Regions from separate parts of the Homo sapiens genome. Here region 2 is linked to region 1. The links come from fine-mapping of genetic effects on plasma protein levels. Region 1 holds a variant in brackets. A gene starts in the other region. All regions are shown on their reverse strands.

What was found. PIP is the chance, under the fine-mapping model, that this variant and not a neighbour inherited with it causes the effect. Protein levels are from antibody-based Olink assays in UK Biobank. Linkage for the fine-mapping came from a reference panel and not from the study's own genotypes, which makes the PIPs less certain.
Region 2: CPA4 starts here. The variant in region 1 is fine-mapped to the plasma level of the CPA4 protein (UK Biobank, PIP above 0.99).

What each region holds. Positions count from the first base shown.
Region 1 is chr19:54,246,195-54,251,718 of GRCh38, reverse strand. LILRB5 (leukocyte immunoglobulin like receptor B5) reads left to right here. Exons shown (of 13, transcript NM_001081442.3): 13 at 787-2,298. The coding sequence ends at 933. It overlaps LOC107987463 (a long non-coding RNA gene), which reads left to right and starts at 3,773. Exons shown (of 3, transcript XR_007067341.1): 1 at 3,773-4,501; 2 at 5,439-5,524. RefSeq lists an enhancer at 1-225. The variant T/G (reference allele first, on the strand shown) is at 2,860.
Region 2 is chr7:130,291,502-130,296,501 of GRCh38, reverse strand. CPA4 (carboxypeptidase A4) reads right to left here and starts at 3,341. Exons shown (of 11, transcript NM_016352.4): 1 at 3,254-3,341. The coding sequence starts at 3,321. RefSeq lists an enhancer at 2,847-2,936.

The DNA of each region.
Region 1 (5,524 bases):
GCTCACTGTGGATGGGGCTCCCCATGGGAGCTGCAGACACAGCAGGGAGCAAAGCCGCCCCCGCCTCCTGAGCTCACCTCATGGTGGGAGACAAAATGCAAATAAATGCATCGTGTCCAGGAGTGCAACGTGCTGTAAGGAACATAAACCAGGGAAAGGGCAGAGAGTGTGGGGCAGTGGGGCCAGTCTGAATGGAAGGGGAGGGCTGTCTGCTCAGCTGTCATCTGAGAAGCCTGGACAGAGTGGGGCACACGATCCTCTGATGGACGAGCCCCTGCAGGCAGAGGAAACAGCCGTGCAAAGGCCCCGAGGCAGCAGCGAGCTCTTGCGGGAAGGCCCGTGAGGCTGCAGCCAAATGGGCAAGGTCAGAGTGAGGAGCAGAGGCCAGAACCACAGGGAGGGAGCGGCCAGACCCTCCACGGCCTTAGGGCGTCCCTGAGATTCCATCAGGAAAGGGATGTAATCGGATCACCCCGGGAACAGTGAGGAAAATTGACTCCAGGAGGTCAGGGGGACTCAAGGACACCCCCCACCACTGTCTCTCTCCAGCAGAGCCCACACGATGAAGACCCCCAGGCAGTGACGTATGCCCCGGTGAAACACTCCAGACCTAGGAGAGAAATGGCCTCTCCTCCTTCCCCACTGTCTGGGGAATTCCTGGACACAAAGGACAGACAGGCAGAAGAGGACAGACAGATGGACACTGAGAGAGTCCTTTCCTCTCCAGGCCCCCAGGCCTCCCCCACCCCCACCACGTTCCTTCCCTCTCACTCTCCCCCGCTGCAGGCTGCTGCATCTGAAGCCCCCCAGGATGTGACCTACGCCCAGCTGCACAGCTTGACCCTCAGACGGGAGGCAACTGAGCCTCCTCCATCCCAGGAAAGGGAACCTCCAGCTGAACCCAGCATCTACGCCCCCCTGGCCATCCACTAGCCCACGGGGGACCCAGATCTCATACTCAACAGAAGGAGACTCAGAGACTCCAGAAGGCACAGGAGCTGCCCCCAGTGGACACCAATGAACCCCAGCCAGCCTGGACCCCTAACAAAGACCACCAGGACATCCTGGGAACTCTGGGACTCACTAGATTCTGCAGTCAAAGATGACTAATATCCTTGCATTTTTGAAATGAAGCCACAGACTTCTCAATAAATCAATGAGCTGAGAAAACTGAAACAGAAATTAGAGCATGGTATAAATTTGGAATGATAATGTAAATATTACACATTAAATGATGAAATCGGAAAACTACAAATGAGCGAATGAATTAGAAAAGAATAAAACCTACGTAATTAATGACCTTGGCAATGACAGAAAGAATTTAGAAAAAGAACAACAAATTATTCCAAATGAAGGTGTGAGGAAGGGGACAAAAATAACAAGAGGAGTTACTAATGAGGGCTACGTGAAAACTCGATGAAGCCAAAAAAGCTCATTCTTGAGAATGTGAATTACATTCACAAATCCTAGCCACAATAAGCAAGGAAAAAAGCGGGGTTCAGGCACACATTTCCATATGGGGGTGAAACAGCAGACACCACCACAAATCTGACACATATTGCCTTTATTTTTTTCACTTTTAAGTTCAGGGATACATGTGCAGGTTTGTTAGACAGATAAACTTGTGTCAAGGGGATTTGTCTTGGTTTTTGTGTGAGGGTTTTTGTTTTGTTTTGTTTTGTTTTTTGAGACGGAGTCTCGCTCTATCACCAGGCTGGAGTACAGTGGAGTGATCTCGGCTCACTGCAACCTCTGCCTCCCGGGTTCAAGCGATTCTCCTGCCTCAGTCTCCCGAGTAACTGGGACTACAGGCACCTGCCACCACGCCCGGCTAATTTTTGTATTTTTAGTAGAGACAGGGTTTCTCCATGTTGGTCAGGCTGGTCTCAAACTCCCGACCTCAGGTGATCCGCCCGCCTCAGCCTCCCAAAGTGCTGGGCTTACAGGCGTGAGCCACCACGTCCAGCCCATACATTTCAATTTTAAAGGGATGCGCCCTAGTCCTTAGTTAGTCTCTCCTCATCTCTATAAAATGTTCAGCTACTCACCTCTTGGGCTATTGCTAGACATCGTTTTCTCTTCCTTCTTTCTGACGCCTACAATAGATAGGACATTCCCCCTCCTCATTCTATTCTCCCAAGTACTTTAAATTGCAATTTATAAAGTTTCTATGCTACACTCTAAAAAAAATTCTGTTTTGTTTTCTAATTTCATAATTGGTGCTTCACTGTGTCTTGTCCTCGAAGGAATGAGTATTTTGATTGTGTTCATTAAATCTGATTTTTCTATGTCTTCTAATTATTTTATATAATATTCATTCTGCTGTAGAAAAAAAAATCATATAATCCTGCCTCAGAAATTCAATGTCCTCTGTATTTCTCAAATATTTAAACATGTTTAACCTAAGATGGGTCTCACACATTCCTAGTACTCCTTTTGACCATGATAATCCTCATTAGTGAGTGTGGATTGTCAACCATAGCACTTTGTGTTTGATTTTTTGGTTTGTTTTTTGTTTTTATTTATTTATTTATTTATTTTTTGAGACGGAGTCTCACTCTGTCACCCAGGCTAGAGTGCAGTGGCGTGATCTCAGCTCACTGCAACCTCTGTCTCCTGAGTTCAAGCAACTCTCCTACCTTAGCCTCCCGAGTAGCTGGGACTACAGGTGCCCGCCACCACAACCAGCTAATCTTTTTTTTTTTTTTTTTTTGTATTTTTAGTAGAGATGGGGTTTCACCGTGTGGCCAGGATGGTCTCGATCTCTTGACCTCATGATCTGCCTGCCTCGGCCTCCCAAAGTGCTGGGATTACAGGCGTGAGCCACCACGCCCAGCCTGTGTTTGTTTTTGAGACAGG[T/G]TCTTGCTCTGTCACCCAGGCTAAAGTGCAGTGGCGCACCACCCCAGTTCACTGCAACCTCCGCCTGCCAGACTCAAGCGATCTTCGACCTCAGGCTCCTAAGTAGCTGGAACTACAGGTGTGCACCACCACACCCAGTTCATTTTTGTCTTTTTAGTAGAGATGGGGTTTCACCATGTTGCCCAGGCTGGTCTCGAACTCCTGGGCTCCAGCGATCTGCCCACCTCGGCCTCCCAGAGCGCTGGGAAAATAGGCGTGAGCCATCGCAGGCAGCCAGTCATAGCACTTTTTATCATTAGGATGATTCCTCTTTCTTCTCATTCTTGGACACTCATCTCCCAGTGCCTCATCTGCCAGAGAGGGTTTCTACCAGGGCTGCACTGGGCGTTAGGCTTGAAAAGAGGAGGACGGCACCACCTGCCCGGGTCTTGTGAGTCTGCTCAGGCCTGTAACCAGCAGGGGAGGGTCCAGTGTGAACCTCATGTCTGACAACTCTACAATGAATCTATTTCACACACACAGAGGGGGAGGCTCAGGGCTGACCATAAACCTGAGTCAATGAGCAGAGATACCCCAGTGCCATCCACAAACACAGGGGACGAGGAGCCACAACTTCCCACTTTCACCCAAAACCCCAACCCCTCCCTGACTGTGAGGGCCCTGGGGTTCTCCTCTGTCTCATATAGAGGCGGAAACCTCCCTTTTAGTGATTCCCTGACATTGCAAGTCACCAGAAGCCAACTCAGCTCTGACCTCGCTGCTTCCTGAGGTTTCCTGCCTGTGTCAGGAAGTTTCATTTCTCATTTCCTTCTATGGCTGCGTATTTCAGAAACATGTATTAGTCAGGGTTCTCTAGAGGGGCAGAACTAACAGGATAGATGTATATATAAAGGGGAGTTTATTAAGGAGTATTGATCCACACGATCACAAGGTGAGGTCCCACAATAGACTGTCTGTAAGCTGAGGAGCAAGGAAGCTAGTCCGAGTACCAAAACCTCAGAAGCCGAGAAGCCGACAGTGCAGCCCTTCAGTCTGTGGTCAAAGGCTCTGCATGGGAAGGTCAGGGATTGGCAGAGTAGGAGATGGACCTGGCTGGGCTGGGGGTGAGAGCAATGCAGGGTCCGTCCTGTACAGCCCACTCCCTCCCCCAGGCCCTGCTGTGCTGGGGAAGGGAGGGTTGTAAGGAGGACACAGCCCCAGATGGAGACACTAAGACAGGCCCCTGCTGTCAGATGAGAAGACCCAGAGCAGGAAGCAGGTGTCCACCTGGTGGGGCAGCAGGAGGACAGCTGGGGAAAACACAAGGTCCCAGGTTCCCCTCCCAGACCTGCTTCTTCCAGGCTGGGGGGCCTGGGGCAGGCGATTCCCCCCTCTGAGCCTCAGTTTGTGCATCTGTGAAATGGGTTGGGGGGTTGGCAATCCCACGTTGCACGACTGCTGTGAGGGTTAGAGCTCATGAAGACCCAGCACGCGCCTGCACACAGTAGGTGCTCACATCAGCGATGTCATCCTCATTCCCGACGTCATCACGCGCAAGGTCTGGGAAGATACCTGGGGGTTGTAACCGGGGTCTCAGTGGCCTTTGTCCTGCCGCTCGTCCTCCTCCTCCAATGTCGGCGTCAGAGCAAACACAGGACATTGGGTGAGCAGGGACTGGGGGAACCTGTGGGCCCACCGAGGGTGGGATCAGGGCACCAACCAAAGGGGAACCAAACACACAAGAAAGTCAGCTTAGAAAAACAGCTCCAGAAAGTCCCAGCTGAAAAATCTAGAAAGAAGAGAATAAATATGAGTGTATGTGCAAGTAATTTATTCTTTGAGCTTTTTATTTTATTTTATTTGAGACGTGATCTGGCTCTGTCACCCAGGCTGGAGTGCAGTGGTGTGATCTCGGCTCGCTGCAACCTCCACCTCCCAAGATCCTCAATGATCCTCCTACCTCAGCCTCCTGAGTAGCTGGGACTACAGGCCCCTATCACCACGCCAGGCTAATTATTTTTTTGCGGGGGAGAGATGGGGGGTCTCACTATGTTGCCGAGGCTGGTCTCAAACTCCTGAGTTCAAGCAATCCACCCGCCTCAGCCTTCCAAAGTGCTGGGATTATAGGCATGAGCCATTCGGCCCAACGTCTTCGGGCCTTTTTAAGTGTATCCAGTATTTAAAACAACTATGCCTGTAATCGCAGTACTTTGGAAGGCTGAGGCAGGTGGATGGCTTGAGCCCAGGAGTTTCAGAGGACTCTGGGCAATGTGGTGAGACCCCATCTCTACAAAAAAAATTAAAAATGCAAATAAGCCAGGTTTGGTGGTGTGCACCCGTGGTCCCAGCTACTCAAGACGCTGAGGCAGGAGGATCACTTGACCCTATGAGGTCAAGGCTGCAGTGAGCTGGGATCGCACCACTGTGCTCCAGCCTGGGCGACAGAGCGAGACCTTGTCTCAAAAAAAAAAAAAAATATATATATATATATATATATATATGGGTGTGTTTTCAAGTTTCATTTTTTCCCCTAAAGTCGCATGTACTGGGTGGGTGGTTCTAAGGTTCCCAGGGCTGAGACTTTGTCCTTCTTCACCTAGCCCAGAGAGAGGCTGATTTCCAACACCCTGCAGGGGCCGTGGGACCAGAGCCCAAGAACAGGGGTCTGCTGAGGAGGTAATTCTGC
Region 2 (5,000 bases), not on the chromosome of region 1:
CGCATTCACCCAACACATGCGTTTTAGTTTTTCCAAAGTGGTGACTTCACAACAGAACTTGTAGACATTCCTGGGCGCAGTCCCAGGACAATGGGACACCGTGTCTCTGACTGGCCCTGAGGATGATTAAATCCACAAACCCATTTCATCCTGCTCTAATCAGCCAAGCTACAGAGGTCAACAAAATATCTGTAGCATGCAAAGCGGCAGGGCAGAAGAGCGGGTGCCGAGTGAAGCCCGTTCCATCTGTCTCTTCTTCACCTCTCCCTTCTGCCCCATCTCGGACCCAGCCCAAACTCACCGCGTACTTTTGTATGCTTTTGTACACGCTGTTCCCACTGCCTGCAATCCATCCTTTTTCTCATCTGTCAGGCCCATCTAGTCCCATCTAATCTTTAGGACCAACTCACATCACCCATGAAGCTTTTCCTGACCAGAGGAAGCAAAGTCCTAACAGTCTTCAGATAGTGCTGAACATTGGCGGTTGTGGTAGTGGGTAGCATTATCCTTTTTTTTCAGATGGAGTTTTTGCTCTTGTTGCCTTGCCCAGGCTGGAGTGCAATAGCACGATCTCAGCTCACTGCAATCTCCGCCTCCGGGGTTCAAGTGATTCTCCTGCCTCAGCCTCCCAAGTAGCTGGGATTGCAGGCATGCACCTCCACGCCCAGCTAATTTTGTATTTTTAGTAGAGGCGGGGTTTCTCTATGTTGGTCAGGCTGGTCTCGAACTCCCGACCTCAGGTGATCCACCTGCCTCAGCCTCCCAAAGTGCTGGGATTACAGGTGTGAGCCACTGCACCCAGCGGTAGCATTATCCTTATGAACAGAAGCACAGCAACACCTGAAAGGAGGGAGGACATTGCGGGGTGCAATGCGAAGGGCAGCCTTTTTCTTGCCCTCACTGTCCTTGTCTGTATTTGAAAAATGCCCTCGTCAGTTCATGAGGCTCAAGATGGTGGAGCACATCCTATCTCCACTATCCAGAAATTCACTCAAAGACCTTGAGCTCTTTCTGAAGATGGAAATTGGCCTGGGAGGGGGACGTGTTGGGATTCACAGGTGGCCATGTCTGCCCCTCCTGCTCCACACAGGTGTTCTCACAGCTCCTCTTAACTTGATCCTCTCCAATAGACAGGGCGTCCAGCTGCTGCCATTGCAATGGCTGGCACTCCCACTCCCTCACCCTCACAGGAGTCTGTGCTTTGGACAGTCAATACCCACTTTGGTGACTGAGCATCTATCCCTCCCCTTTCACCATGCTGACAGCCAAGTGGCCCGTCCTTTGTGCCTTTCTCATCTGCCTCCCTAGCCAGGCTTAGCAGCCACCACAAAGAATATTAAGAGATGGTTTCATAGAACTCTTAGATGCCTGCCAGCTACTGTTGATGCTGTAACCAGCTCTGCAACTGGTTCCTGTTCTCTGCCTGCCTGGTGCCTCTAGGCATCCTGGCCATTGTCCCATCCTGAAGATCTCTGAAGACCAGGGCAGAAGACTCCAGTAGAGCAAGAGAGACTGGGGAGATAGGTGAGGCAGATGGAAGGGAGGGGAATGGGTGGTGGGTGGTGGGGAGAAACCATCATCCTCATCTTCAGCAGCCAATCCAGAGCCTGGCTTCCCAACCACTTGAATGCTCAGAGGCCAGCTTCCCCTTGCTCTAAATGTTCCCCTTGCTCTAAAAGCTGGGTGTCTGGGACACCTCTAGAGAGCCCAGGAAGAATTCCACTACCTTTGCTAGGTTTCCTACTATGGCGTGAGAATGGATTTGGGGATGAGAATGACACTATCAGTTCAAACCATCTGCAGTCAGCTCAGGCACACAGCTTTTTCTGTGCAAAATTCCTGCAGAGAGCATTCTAGGGCCTGGCCCAGCTGTCGCAGCCCAGGTGCCCACCACATTGCAAGAGAGGTCTGTATCTTGCGAAATAGAGATTTTTCAGCCACATGAATAGCTGCAGTGGGAGCCTGACAGTTCCATGCGTCAGCCCACACGGCAGCAAGTCTAGTCACTACACACCTACTGCTGAGCCGCCTGTGGGAAAATCTTCCCTGGCCACCTGCCACTCCTAACCCCTCTGAGCTATTTGGCAACAGAGACACAGGTGTGAACAGAAGTCATCATCATAAAACTTAGTCAATCTCATATAAGTAATTACCTCAAAAAACAACCCCAAAGTCTCATTAGCCAGATAGTAAAATAGAAAGAAAACTAAGAGACAGATCCAAGAGATATAGGATTTTATTTGGAGATGAACTTGTGTTATAGCAAAAGGGTACGAGTTTTACGTTCAGAGTTCCAGCTCCCCTGCTTCCCAGCTAAGTGGCCTTGAGCGCGTTCCTTAACATTCTAAGGCTGATTTTTTTCATGTTTAAGTGGAAGAAAATAACACCCCTGCCTGGCAAAGTTGTTGTGTGATCAAAAAGATAATGTACATGAAAGCTCTTTGCAAATGGTAAAGTATTATGCAGTAATGAGTTATTATAATTCAGTCTTCTAACAGGGCACCATGGTATCCCTTTTATCTCTCCTACCACCCAAATGTCCTCTCCCCTGCAAACCTCAAAGTATTCTGCATGGAGCGTGTTGAGCACGTGTGTGTGTGCACACACACACGCGCACACACACACGGTGTTCAGGCATGTGTCTCTGCATGTCATTTTCATAGCTGTGTCTAGGCAAGACCTGTGAAATCTCCACGTCCCAGAAGCCAGTAAGAAAGCACCAGCTCAGAAGAGGGTGTAGCTCAGGGGTAGAGCATTAAACTGCAGATCAAGAGAAGGCACCAGCTCTGCAAAGCCTTCGCCATTAACAAAGAAGTGAAACCAACAAGCTTGAGACCCAGGGTTTCCCTTTATGCATGGCGGAAATTGGAAACAAACCATTTCTGGTAACCAGTAACTCTTAGTAATTAATAACGTAGCTCTTAGTAACCAGTAACTCTTAGTAATTAATAAGGTAGGAGTAAGAAAGTAGATGCCTGGAACTGACCTTATAAGTAAGAACTAGGCAGAAAAAGAACTGGCAGGAGATGAGGGAGCTGGGGAGAGACTGCAATGATCATCTAGTCCTGATTTCACAGATGAAATGGGGTCTCAGAGAAGAGAGTGGACTTGTCCAGGATGACACAGGGGCAAAGCTGGAACAAGAGCCCAGGTCTTCTTCCTCCATGTGAGCTATTATCAGCCATTCATTTTCAGTTCCATTTGGCTCCCATATTTCTGAAATAACCAAATAATAAGTCCAAAAGGAACTTACCCAAAAAATTTTTCTTGGCCACAGATGCTGGACCCAATAAGGGCCCCAATGAACAGTATCCACCTCATGTCCCCGGGGAGTCAGTCATACAGTGGCTGAGTCAAGCTGTATTTATAAAGAGTCTGAGAGTGACTCAAGTCCTCAAAAATGCTAATGTGATTCCCAAGCACCCTTGCAACTCTGACTGTGACAGGCAGGCCCTACCAATGCCTCTCCCATTCCTTTCAAGTGATAAAGGTTGAGCATCTCAATTTACAAGGTCAGGAACTTGCTCCAGGAGCTGAAAAAGTCTGTGCCAAGGGTACCATATTGCTCATCACTTGGCATTTAAATAGTGTTTTTTCAGTGAATAAGCTAATTCCACAGTGTTGGATGGAATTTATCCTGATAGGAGAGGTCAGATTATAAACCTGGCATAGAATTACCTCTAGAATAATAATAAAAAAGTTAAGACTATCAAAGCAAGACTGAGCTGGCTCCAAGACCACATGCTTGACAAGCCCTGCCAGAGAATTTCACCAGGGCAGGTCAGGATGAGGAAAGAGGTTTGGGGCCTCTTTTATGTATCTGAAGCCTAATTCTTCTGACTCCACTAAGGAAATAGAAATGTATCAGGCAAATGATATAGAAAGGATGTTTTAGTCTGAATAAATTATCAGTGTTCCTTGGGGTCTGATCTATGGGGAAGGCTTAATGGTTTTATCAATAATAAGATTTTCAGCCGGGCGAGGTGGCTCATGCCTGTAATCCTAGCACTTTGGGAGGCCGAGGTGGGCGGATCACGAGGTCAGGAGATTGAGACCATCCTGGCTATCACAGTGAAACCTCGTCTCTACTAAAAATACAAAAAATTAGCCGGGCGTGGTGGCGGACGCCTGTAGTCCCAGCTACTCAGGAGAATGGCGTGAACCTGGGAGGCGGAGCTTGCAGTGAGCCGAGATCGCACCACTGCACTCCAGCCTGGGCGACAGAGTGAGACTCCATCTCAAATAAATAAATAAATAAATAATAAGATTTTCTTATACTTCCTAGACTGTGGGTCTGGTGTCCTTTCCGCCAAGTCACAGCTGAATAAATGGAAGACACTCATATCTCCATAACGCCTTCAGGGGCTCTGGGACCTTTGAGTCTGTCCTGGGAGCCCCAGTTCCCACAGCCTTTCCCATCCCACCCTCCCTACGGTCTACATGCTTTCCACACCCACTCAAAGGGAGTGGACACAACCAAGGGTCATAGTTGAGAGAGTTAAAGAAAAACTATCCTGACCTGTGTTAAAATGTAAGACCTAATTCAAGATTATTATGATTAGGACCATGGCTATTTCAGTAGGAAAGACTTACTGTGCTTAACACTGAATACGGCAAAGAAAACAGAGAGGATCAGTGGGATTACTAAGAGAAGACATCAAGGTAGGGGGATTCTTGCTAAAAGCAGGCCAAGGACTTATACATCAAAGTCCCCATCAAAGGTGGGGATGAGGAACTTGATCAGATATCAAGGTGGGAGGGATGACTTCGCAGGATCTTTGCTCAGGCTGGCTTAGCCAGGGCTCAAGAACCAGCCTAATCAAAAGGAGGGTGCAGAATCTCAAGTGTGGTCCCAGAGAGAGCCTTTGTTAGGAGCTGTGGAGCTAGGGGCCATCATCTCCTCTTGCTCCCTCAGGGTCCTTTTGTCCTCTCAACACTTCAACTGAATTCCTACACCCACCCTGTCCACCACAAAGCGTGGGCTCAGCGTCACTGAGATC